Linked DNA regions of Homo sapiens: all the other regions are linked to region 3. Evidence: fine-mapped QTL for protein levels in blood plasma. A gene starts in region 3. Each other region holds a variant in brackets. All regions are shown on one strand. Distances are between the middles of the regions.

Region 1 (4,242 bases), 37 kb before region 3:
CCAAAGGCAAAGAAGTTGAAAACTTTGAAAAAAATTTTAGAAGAATGTATAACTAGAATAACCAATACAGAGAAGTGCTTAAAGGAGCTGATGGAGCTGAAAACCAAGGCTCGAGAACTACGTGAAGAATGCAGAAGCCTCAGGAGCCGATGCGATCAACTGGAAGAAAGGGTATCAGCAATGGAAGATGAAATGAATGAAATGAAGCGAGAAGGGAAGTTTAGAGAAAAAAGAATAAAAAGAAATGAGCAAAGCCTCCAAGAAATATGGGACTATGTGAAAAGACCAAATCTACGTCTGATTGGTGTACCTGAAAGTGATGGGGAGAATGGAACCAAGTTGGAAAACACTCTGCAGGATATTATCCAGGAGAACTTCCCCAATCTAGCAAGGCAGGCCAACGTTCAGATTCAGGAAATACAGAGAACGCCACAAAGATACTCCTCGAGAAGAGCAACTCCAAGACACATAATTGTCAGATTCACCAAAGTTGAAATGAAGGAAAAAATGTTAAGGGCAGCCAGAGAGAAAGGTCAGGCTACCCTCAAAGGGAAGCCCATCAGACTAACAGCGGATCTCTTGGCAGAAACCCTACAAGCCAGAAGAGAGTGGGGGCCAATATTCAACATTCTTAAAGAAAAGAATTTTCAACCCAGAATTTCATATCCAGCCAAACTAAGCTTCATAAGTGAAGGAGAAATAAAATTCTTTACAGACAAGCAAATGCTGAGAGATTTTGTCACCACCAGGCCTGCCCTAAAAGAGCTCCTGAAGGAAGCACTAAACATGGAAAGGAACAACCGGTACCAGCCGCTGCAAAATCATGCCAAAATGTAAAGACCATCGAGACTAGGAAGAAACTGCATCAACTAACAAGCAAAATAACCAGCTAACATCATAATGACAGGATCAAATTCACACATAACAATATTAACTTTACATGTAAATGGACTAAATGCTCCAATTAAAAGACACAGACTGGCAAATTGGATAGAGTCAAGACCCATCAGTGTGCTGTATTCAGGAAACCCATCTCACATGCAGAGACCCACACAGGCTCAAAATAAAAGGATGGAGGAAGATCTACCAAGAAAATGGAAAACAAAAAAAGGCAGGGGTTGCAATCCAAGTCTCTGATAAAACAGACTTTAAACCAACAAAGATCAAAAGAGACAAAGAAGGCCCTTACATAATGGTAAAGGGATCAATTCAACAAGAAGAGCTAACTATCCTAAATATATATGCACCCAATACAGGAGCACCCAGATTCATAAAGCAAGTCCTGAGTGACCTACAAAGAGACTTAGACTCCCACACATTAATAATGGGAGACTTTAACACCCCACTGTCAACATTAGACAGATCAACGAGACAGAAAGTCAGCAAGGATACCCAGGAATTGAACTCAGCTCTGCACCAAGCAGTCCTAATAGACATCTAAAGAACTCTCCATCCCAAATCAACAGAATATACATTTTTTTCAGCACCACACCACACCTATTCCAAAATTGACCACATACTTGGAAGTAAAGCTCTCCTCAGCAAATGTAAAAGAACAGAGATGATAACAAACTATCTCTCAGACCACAGTGCAATCAAACTAGAACTCAGGATTAAGAATCTCACTCAAAACCACTCAACTACATGGAAACTGAACAACCTGCTCCTGAATGACTACTGGATACATAACGAAATGAAGGCAGAAATGAAGATGTTCTTTGAAACCAACGAGAACAAAGACACAACATACCAGAATCTCTGGGACGCATTCAAAGCAGTGTGTAGAGGGAAATTTATAGCACTAAATGCCCACAAGAGAAAGCAGGAAAGATCCAAAATTGACACCCTAATATCACAATTAAAAGAACTAGAAAAGCAAGAGCAAACACATTCAAAAGCTAGCAGAAAGCAAGAAATAACTAAAATCAGAGCAGAACTGAAGGAAATAGAGACACAAAAAACCCTTCAAAAAATTAATGAATCCAGGAGCTGGTTTTTTGAAAGGATCAACAAAATTGATAGACTGCTAGCAAGACTAATAAAGAAAAAAAGAGAGAAGAATCAAATAGACACAATAAAAAATGATAAAGGGGTATCACCACCAATCCCACAGAAATACAAACTATCATCAGAGAATACTACAAACACCTCTATGCAAATAAACTAGAAAATCTAGAAGAAATGGATAAATTCCTCGACACATACACTCTCCCAAGACTAAACCAGGAAGAAGTTGAATCTCTGAATAGACCAATAACAGGAGCTGAAAATTGTGGCAATAATCAATAGTTTACCAACCAAAAAGAGTCCAGGACCAGATGGATTCACAGCCGAATTCTACCAGAGGTACAAGGAGGAACTGGTACCATTCCTTCTGAAACTATTCCAATCAATAGAAAAAGAGGGAGTCCTCCCTAACTCATTTTATGAGGCCAGCATCATTCTGATACCAAAGCCGGGCAGAGACACAACCAAAAAAGAGAATTTTAGAC[C/G]AATATCCTTGACGAACATTGTTGCAAAAATCCTCAATAAAATACTGGCAAAACGAATCCAGCAGCACATCAAAAAGCTTATCCACCATGATCAAGTGGGCTTCATCCCTGGGATGCAAGGCTGGTTTAATATACGCAAATCAATAAATGTAATCCAGCATATAAACAGAGCCAAAGACAAAAACCACATGATTATCTCAATAGATGCAGAAAAAGACTTTGACAAAATTCAACAACCCTTCATGATAAAAACTCTCAATAAATTAGGTATTGATGGGATGTATTTCAAAATAATAAGAGCTATCTATGACAAACCCACAGCCAATATCATACTGAATGGGCAAAAACTGGAAGCATTCCCTTTGAAAACTGGCACAAGACAGGGATGCCCTCTCTCACCACTCCTATTCAACATAGTGTTGGAAGTTCTGGCCAGGGCAATTAGGCAGGAGAAGGAAATAAAGTGTATTCAATTAGGAAAAGAGGAAGTCAAATTGTCCCTGTTTGCAGACGACATGACTGTATATCTAGAAAACCCCATTGTCTCAGCCCAAAATCTCCTTAAGTTGATAAGCAACTTCAGCAAAGTCTCAGGATACAAAATCAATGTACAAAAATCACAAGCATTCTTATACACCAACAACAGACAAACAGAGAGCCAAATCATGAGTGAACTCCCATTCACAATTGCTTCAAAGAAAATAAAATACCTAGGAATCCACCTTACAAGGGATGTGAAGGACCTCTTCAAGGAGAACTACAAACCACTGCTCGAGGAAATAAAAAAGGATACAAACAAATGGAAGAACATTCCATGCTCATGGGTAGGAAGAATCAATATCATGAAAATGGCCATACTGCCCAAGGTAATTTACAGATTCAATGCCATCCCCATCAAGCTACCAATGACTTTCTTCACAGAATTGGAAAAAACTACTTTAAAGTTCATATGGAACCAAAAAAGAGCCCGCATCGCCAAGGCAATCCTAAGCCAAAAGAACAAAGCTGGAGGCATCACACTACCTGACTTCAAACTATACTACAAGCCTACAGTAACCAAAACAGCATGGTACTGGTACCAAAACAGAGATATAGATCAATGGAACAGAACAGAGCCCTCAGAAATAACGCCGCATATCTACAACTATCTGATCTTTGACGAACCTGAGAAAAACAAGCAATGGGGAAAGGATTCCCTATTTAATAAATGGTGCTGGGAAAACTGGCTAGCCATATGTAGAAAGCTGAAACTGGATCCCTTCCTTACACCTTATACAAAAATCAATTCAAGATGGATTAAAGACTTAAACATTAGACCTAAAACCATAAAAACCCTAGAAGAAAACCTAGGCAGTACCATTCAGGACATAGGCATGGGCAAGGACTTCATGTCCAAAACACCAAAAGCAATGGCAACAAAAGACAAAATTGACAAATGGGATCTAATTAGACTAAAGAGCTTCTGCACAGCAAAAGAAACTACCATCAGAGTGAACAGGCAACCTACAAAATGGGAGAAAATTTTCGCAACCTACTCATCTGACAAAGGGCTAATATCCAGAATCTACAATGAACTCAAACAAATTTACAAGAAAAAAACAAACAACCCCATCAAAAAGTGGGCGAAGGACATGAACAGACACTTCTCAAATGAAGACATTTACGCAGCCAAAAAACACATGAAAAAATGCTCATCATCACTGGCCATCAGAGAAATGCAAATCAAAACCACAATGAGATACCATCTCAC
Region 2 (4,242 bases), 15 kb before region 3:
GTCTTGAATGAACACTGTGTCCCTGTGTGTCTTAGGACAAGGGGAGAATTTCTAAAGACAGAGAAATTCAGCTGGTCCTGAAAGATGAGGACTCAGGAATCCTCTTTGGATCAGAAGGGACCTCCTGGGACAAGGATGGCTGCTCATGTGCTTTTCCTCATGGTGCTAAGTTTATCCTGAGGTAGAAAAAAGGGTCTTCATGAGACACTTCAGCAGAAAGTTCTGTCATTTCCCTGACATCCTTCTTTTCTGTGTTTATGCTCATGTTTTTCCTTCCAAAACAGCTACCTCTGTTTTTTCACTAACAAAAAATTCAGCTCTTTGCTCTGTCTTGATTCTTTGTCACTGGCTTGAGAAAAATATAAACCAAGCCAATTTTATATAAGTCAAGCTGGTTAATGTTGTCCTGGCAGACACTGGCTTTTGTTCAGTGTGAGAGGCTGATGAAGCGTGAGTCAAAACGTAACTAAAGATGCTGTCTAGCTCTATTAATTCATTCTTATCCCCAGATGTGGAGGAGCACCCTCTCAAGGACAACAGTTCCCCTTTAATACATTCAATATGTGCAATTTTTTAACAGACTAAACACCAAATTTGTTTACCAGAAGCACTGGGAGGGAAAGAAAATACCAACAGGAAGTAAAATTAAAATAAAATAAATTGCAGGCTACACACACATCTTGAAGAGGCCACAGCACCCTGTAAGTAGGTGACTGTTAATCTCTGTGCTTAATTATGAGTCCCAAAGTCAGACTTCAGATTCTACAGGATGGTAATTCTGCACATCTTCAAATGCACTTCTTGGGCTCACACACCAGAGCTCCAGGCCATCAGGAAGTCACAGTTATGGTTATCAGTAGAAAACAATAAGTGAAATCCTGATGGACTAGGATGTTACTAAAAAGCTGCCACACCCATCTCCCACCCAATTTCTTCACCATGGTGAGGCACAGAATGTGGAAGCCGCTAATTGCCACTGTGATCCTCTGGGCTCCCTAAGGGCAGAAAGCAATTTTAAAAGGAAAAGAACAACAGGAGAGAGAGAGAGGAAAAAAACAAAAAAAAAAAAAACAGAGATAGAGTGAGAAAGAAATTTTCAGAAAAGCCACCCACTGCAGCGAAGAAAACAGAGCAGACATTAATTCCCTTTTCATCTTCCTTTCCACTAGGCTGTGTTCAAAGGCATTTAGCTGCACCATGGTGAAATACGTTTTAGTAGAAAATGCATTGTCTTAATTGCTGGCTTAATAAATCTCTCAGTAATTATCAACTTGGAATCAAAATTCTTCTCAGAGAGGAGAAACTCTCTTTATGTGGGCAAATACCTTAAAAAGGCTCTAGCAGTAGAAGAGGTGATCCTTTAGTGGCAAGAGCCCAGAAAACAAAGAACAAATTAATGGCTCTGAATGTGTTAGAATAATAATTTGTGGGGATGGAGCCCCAGAATAGAAGAAGGGAGAGAAAAGAATAAAAGCACGGGAGCCAGGAAATGGTGCCAGGGTGGTATTATGTTCCGTAAAACTGACAGAACAATCCCCGCACACTCGCCCCTCCCTCTTCCCCCAACCCTTTCCACATTTGTGATACTGTGGCATGGAACAGATACCACACGTATGGGGTCCAATAGCTGGAGCCAGAATTAACCATACGAAATACACTTCCTCCAGACCTGTAGATCTGGGTAAGAGCTTTGGCACTGGGCACGGAATGGTGTGTGGGGGAGGAAAATGGGTCATGTTCATCTTATACATATAGCAA[T/C]AATCTGGACATCCCCAGAGAATTACTGAGTTTCACCAAGTTAGATTAGCCACTACTGGCAAGTGGTTACCTTCACTGCCAGTTGCCACAGGTAAATAACAAGTACCCTTGTACCTTGTTGCCTTTAAAATACAGATTCAAATTATTCTTCTCCAAGAAAACTTCTCATTTTCTTTCCTTTTGGACCAACCACATTGGGATCAACTAAATTATTGTCAAAACCTTCTACTATAAAAATTATTCTTCTTGGTGAGAAGGAGAGGTGGCCTATATCCTCAATATAGGCCTTAAACAAATAGTAAAGGAGGAAAATTTCCACTTTGGCCCCTTCCCACCTGCATCTCACTGAATTTTTTTGAATTTTTGAATAACACCTCCTCCATTCTCTAGAAAGATTTTTCCACATCTAGCACAGTGCCAGCCACATAGTAATTTTAATTGATTGAACTGAATTATAAAATCACATAACAGCACAAGTGATTACATGAAGCAGTTAAGAAAAATGTTTTAGACATGTTTATTACTATTATTGTTATAACTTTCATTATTATAAATGAAATAAACTACATTGGGGAAAGGGTGACTTGTTTTTGCATACTTACTGCTTGAGAGTCATTGCTTACTCGTACCCATATTGCTAATGCTAGGATCAAGATACCACATAGCTGCAGAAAAAAACAAACAAACAAAAAGAATACAATTAGGATCATATGAAACTCTATTTCCACACCCTCCTATCTATCCGGTGACAGTAGTTCATCATCGACTATACTATCACAACCTGGAAGACATAAATGAGGCATATTCATATACAGATCATTGTTGAAATGTTAAATTGCAATGTGTAAGTTTGATGAGAATAATTCTATTTCTCATCCACAACTCACTCACAGCTCTATGGACAAGAAGTTATTTCCATTAGGCCTGGAAAGATTATTTTTCCATGTAACTCTAGCCCTGTGTTTCTGCTAGATTTTAGCATACAAAAGAAAAGTCACAACAGTTTAAAGATAAAATATCCTTATCATGCCTCTGGGCTTGTTTGTGAGAAGCTATGTTGGACCAGGAAAAAAGGGAATGACGGAATAGTCACCATTCATTTAAGATTCGACAGGAAGGGAGATGTTGGGATAGAGGGGGAAAAAGTAAAACATACGACAAGATGTGCAGTTAAGCAACAAGGCTATATAATAATCAACACTTTTTGAACCCAAATAAACTCTCTTAAAAACAAGCTCTTTTAGGTGGTAAAGTTTACTCACAGAGAAGGAACAATGAAAGACAGAACTTGAAGTCTTAAATTCCTTTAATGATTTTACCAGATTATTTAATTTGGACCAATGCCAACACAATAAAATGTAAAACACATTTTACTTTAGTGTAAGGAAAACTCTTGTCATTCAGGGTTTAAAAAAAAAAGTTATGCATTGTGGCTTCAAAAACAAAAATCAAAGATCTATTATTAGATAGAGATGTTAAGAGCTGTGTCTGGTAACATACCAGACACAGCAGGCCTTGGGGGACTTAGTAGACAATTCTGACCTTGCTGTGCTCTGACAGACAAATGTCCTTGGAGCATCATTGCTTTCGTGCATGGTTGAGACATACGCCTAGAACCCCAAGACAGCACTTTTAATGGCTTCTCATTGAGTTTGCAGGGGAAATAGAGTCAAGGGCTCTGTTAAGGAATAGGAAGCACAATGAGTAGTTGAGTAACCATAGACTCTGTGCTCCCTAAAAGACCTTGAAAATCATCTAGGTCTAAACCTCTCATTTTGAATGGAGAAATTGGAATCCTGGGCGCTAATTATTACATCATGAAAACCCGGAGCAATTCCTAACCAATCTGCCCTTACAACATACTTCAGCTCCTACAAAATAACTAATGCAATTAAAAACCAAAGCTCTTTAACCACCAAATAACCTATGCAATTATCTCATACACACACATAGACACACACACACCATAAAATACAAATGATTAAAAAACACAGCTTTCGTGTTTGAAAACTTTCCTTACTTCTCTAACCCTGAGATTTATAGCATCCTTTCACAAAATTCTAATTTCATTTGCAAACAAAGACAAATGCTCATTTTAGCAGTCCTTTGTTAAACAGTTTGTGAGTGATAATTTATGTCAAATGATAATGAGACCCTCTGGGATTTTCAGTAATTTCATACCAACTGAATTTTTTGTTTGTTGTTTAGTTTGTTCACTGATTATCTTCTTTCGTTTTCTTCTCTTTTCACAAGCAGATTCATAATGATTGGCTTAATAGTCATTCTGGCCTTCATCTGTAACTAATGAACCTTGTAGCTATTATGAGTAGCATTCTTTCCTGATATTTGTTAAACTATCAACGAAAAAACTTTAAGAATTCTTAGTAAGAGCTTAGTAAGAACTCAGTGTGATATTTTTTAAAACTTTTTTTGTTCGTGTATCACTATTCACTTTTTCAAGGTATTTAGATATCAGATCATTCA
Region 3 (4,242 bases):
TGTATAACCTGCTCCCAATGTTTAATCAATTTAAGTATCTCAAGGGAAGAAATGTATCAGAACTAACTAAAAAACTGGCATATATGTAGCATGAGCTACATTAAATATTTGCAAAAGCAGCCCATTTTTTTAACCTAAAAACAGCAGCCCATTTTTTTTGCCTTCTTTATTTTACTTTTTTAAATATTTACTTACTTATTTAAAAGTCACCAATATATCCATTTGTACTCATTAGCACTACTGATCATTGAATGGAAAATCAGTCTATACAATAAAGCTGTATTCATGTAGTTAAGTTTAATTAAGTTCATCATTATTTTAATAGAACAGAAATATAGCAACACATAGGTATGAGATGTCTGTTTACTAAAGATCAGGTACAAAAACAAAACCAGAGTTCTTTCATCCTTGGAGTGGATAAGGTAGCTTTTAATCCAGTATACAAAATACTTTTTTCATTTAAATACTTTGTGCTATTTCCACTGATTGACATTTAAACAATCTTTAATTGTACCATATATGCTAAAAATGATAAGGTCAATGTCCCAACATCCCAGCCTGCTCTTTTCATACCTTGTTTTTCCATTATCTATTGATAGATATCAGTTATCAATTTGTTGGTTATGTCTATGTCAATGGACTTTCAAGAGAAACATAACAAATTGCTAAAATACAAATCCTGTCAATTAAAAGGTAGGGTGATGACACATCAAAATACTGACTTTAAAATGCCAATACATATATATATCCACGGTCTTAGTTTGATTTTCTTATGATTTAGGAATTTTATCATTTCCCCCTCAAGTTTTTCATGACCCATTTTTTTTGTCTTTGAGGCTCTGAAAATGATCTTTATTGTCCCACACCCTGCGATTCACCTGTTCAAACCCAGAAGTGAAGGGCGGGAATCAGGACCCGGGCTCCGGATGGAATCAGACCATGTTTTTACCACAGAGTCCTTAAATTAGGGAGGCCTGCTTGATATACAACTAAGGAAAATTGTCCTTTAATTAAGGGGCATTTGTGTTCCTCTGTGATTTTTTTTTGCAGCAATATGAAAACATTTATGAAATGTTTATCCTCACATTCTGAAGTGCACTTTTTTGAGTCCTTGGCTCATTTTCAATTACTGAAATAACCAAAGAAAGAACAAACAAATCCAAACAAGTACATGGAAAATACATTTTCCCCCTTCTCTTATTTCTCTAGTGTACAGTCTGTTCTTGTTTATGATATTTATATCAAGATCCCCTTTCTTGCATAAAATTGATAATTAAAAGGAAAACACTTACCCAGAACAAGAAGTTGAAGGTAAACATAGAATATTTTATACAGGCACTCACACCTGCCATTTCGGAAAAGGATTAGGAATCCAGATGCCGTGAATTTAACTATTCGTTACAGGCTTGTCCTGCAATATGCTCTGGAGCAACTTGCCTGCAGAGATTTCTGTATCCACGGCTTCAGAGCAGAAAGAGAAAGCAAAGAAGTAGAGGGAGGAATAAAAAGTTATTAAACTGGATAAAAAAATTAACCCACACATTTAAATATCGCAAAGGCTATTAACCCACACATTTAAATATCTCAAAGGCTATTAACTCACACATTTAAATATCGCAAAGGCTATCTCCAGGCAAGTATGTTCCTTTGCTTGTCATAGCTCCTGGGGCACTGGGCCAGGATATTTATGATCCTTTCTCAAAAACTGCCTCCTCTAAAGTAAACAGATATCAAGTGAAGGGAATGGCACTGGATCAGGCAAGAGAATGGCACAGTGCTACTAAGTTCTTGGCTTTCAGAAACCACTGCCTGACTTCCCCGCCCTCCATTTCAACTATGGGGAAATAAGGTTGTTTTGTTCTGAGTTAAATGGACATTGTATCTCTACTCATTTTTGCATTGCATTTTCTCAATACTACAAAATTCCTTCTAAATGCAATAAAATGCATTTAGAAATCTGCAAAATATCAAAGCTTAGACATAGCAACCTGTTATCATTAAACCTAGAATAGTAAAATAACCATTACATGTATCTGCCCTCCAAAACATCTAAATTTATTTCAAAAGAATTCCAGAGCTGCCGTAAATACACCACAGAAATTGCAGAGGGAGAGGCAGCCTTGCCTATCATGATAAGACCATTTGCTTTTTATCTTTATTTCTTTATGATACAAAGGGAAAGAAATCATAAAGTGGCACTGACTGCAACATTGTTTTCATTTTATAATGCGTAGTCATTCTGATAGCTTGGTTTGTTTTTAAGGTGGACACTGTAATTTCCTTCCTCTGATAAATTGTATCTAGCAACAGCTGTTCTCCACCAACTCAGTTTCTGGATTCCAGGTCCTCCCGGACAAAAAAATTCAAAATGGGAAGGTGGTCATGGATCAGTGACCATAGATTTTACTATTTGTTTCTAGTGCTAATAGAAGGCAGCTGTCTCAGGTAAAGGCAAAATGCTCCGACATCATCAGGGAGGTGTGGACTGCTTTGTGTAAACAGCCTGGGTCATGTTAGTTTCCACATCCTGCCTCTCAAAGGGAGTTCTTCTCCCCCTAAATAAAAGAACCCTCTACTTTAAAAGGTTGTTGAGAAAATTATTCTTTAGAATCTTTGCTAAGTTTTACACGATAAGCAAGCATGAACTCCTTACAAAAGAAAAATATTATTTCTAATTTTCACTGGCATACAATGTTTTTGAAACAATTCTACTCCCTGACTACAAATACAATATATTTTAATGCATTATCAACAATAATATATAGCGTTAAAGGCCAAATTTAGGATTAATTCCAAAAATAATGGCTTAATATATAAATCATCACTAAAATTGTTTGTGTTCTCTTTCCTACTAGAAAATGGATAGTTTCACAACCTTCTATTGAGATATTTTGTATATAGAATAATCCAAGGCTGAAAGAATAATTTCAGATTGAATGAAAACCAAAATTGATTCATAGTCCCAGAAATGATTATTTATCAGAGGCTAAAATTAAAAAAAAATTACAGATTTAAATGCTGCTTTGTTGAAAAGAATGTATTGAATACTACCAAATTTTAGTTTGAAATAGATATTTTGGTGGATGCTGAACATCCTTAAAAAGAATACTGTGTAGTCTTTAGTTGAATCACTCTTGAACTCTGTAACACAAAAATCAATGGATGTGTTTGTACAGGAGAATGACTGTGTAATAGAACCCCTAGTCTAATTCAAAACCTATATGAAACAGTTCACTCCTGGAAATTCCTATTCCTATTAATGTTATAATCACACAACACTCTCCCAGGCTGAATTTGTACAGATATTTTGTATTTCTCTTTCTTTCCATCCAATCACTCTTACTGGTCTGTGTAGCTCCTAAATTACTGTCAAAACTATTTCTTCCATCTCATCCTTTTGCATTTCATTATTCAGTCCTTTATCATTTCTTACTTGAGCTGTGTCAATAGAATGAGAATTAATTTCCCTGGCAGTTTCTCCCAGTTCCTCTCTGCCTTAGCACTTTAAAATTCTTTTTGAGAAATACTTATTGATTAGGTAATGATAATGATGAAAACCCAATCTAAGGATATTTTCCTTTTACCTACAAGATAAAGTTCAGATTCCTTAAAGTAGCATTTACAGCACACAGCAAACAAGTCCTCCACCCACTTTCCAGAATTTTGTCCCTCCCCTTTCTTCCTAGGCAGCCTCCACTTCTAGGCTCCATAACCACAGAATTATTTCCCAGGCCTAGAACACACCTTTGGATTTTATGCCTTGTTCCTTCTGCCTGGAATATCCTTTCCCACCTTCTCTATTGCAACATCCCTGTGGAGCCTTCCCTTCCTCATCCTCTGCCCCCACTCTGGGCAGATTTACTTGCTTCTCAGTCCTCAAGTCCATTATTATTTGAACAGACCTTAAATCTACAATTGCCACTATATCACATTTATTTGTGTCTCTCCCCCACATTTGATTCTATATGCCTGAAAAGCAGAAATCTTACCCTATTCACCTCTGTACCTACAGTAGCTGGCATTAGAGCTACAGAGATTTGCAATGGCAGCCAAGCTCCTCAGAAAGTTCAACTAGTGATTTCCTCATTAGGTTCTCTAGGGAACTACCAATATGCTACCTCTGCCTTTAAAAAATCTATTAGGTCAAGAAAAACAGTTTATTAATTTCAGGACTTGTCAGAGCCTTCAACTTTCTAATATTCAAGGAGGTGATATATAGCAATTCTGAAATGAATATAATCT

Direction of the effects. Positions count from the first base shown, and alleles are read on the strand shown. Strength reflects both the effect of a copy and how common the allele is.
For the plasma level of the protein whose gene starts at base 1,673 in region 3, G is the low allele of the variant in region 1 and C is the other (weak association).
For the plasma level of the protein whose gene starts at base 1,673 in region 3, T is the low allele of the variant in region 2 and C is the other (strong association).

The links. PIP is the posterior inclusion probability: the model's chance that the variant is causal. Protein levels are from antibody-based Olink assays in UK Biobank. Linkage for the fine-mapping came from a reference panel and not from the study's own genotypes, which makes the PIPs less certain.
Region 1: its variant is fine-mapped to the plasma level of the TSPAN8 protein (UK Biobank, PIP 0.90).
Region 2: its variant is fine-mapped to the plasma level of the TSPAN8 protein (UK Biobank, PIP 0.97).

The regions. Positions count from the first base shown.
Region 1 is chr12:71,119,160-71,123,401 of GRCh38, forward strand. No RefSeq gene overlaps it. Among named protein-coding and RNA genes, the nearest start is that of TSPAN8, 37 kb to the right of the region's middle. The variant C/G (reference allele first, on the strand shown) is at 2,493.
Region 2 is chr12:71,141,791-71,146,032 of GRCh38, forward strand. It overlaps TSPAN8 (tetraspanin 8), which reads right to left. Exons shown (of 9, transcript NM_004616.3): 3 at 2,361-2,423. Among named protein-coding and RNA genes, the nearest start is that of TSPAN8, 14 kb to the right of the region's middle. The variant T/C (reference allele first, on the strand shown) is at 1,759.
Region 3 is chr12:71,156,327-71,160,568 of GRCh38, forward strand. It overlaps TSPAN8 (tetraspanin 8), which reads right to left and starts at 1,673. Exons shown (of 9, transcript NM_004616.3): 1 at 1,604-1,673; 2 at 1,293-1,461. The coding sequence starts at 1,352.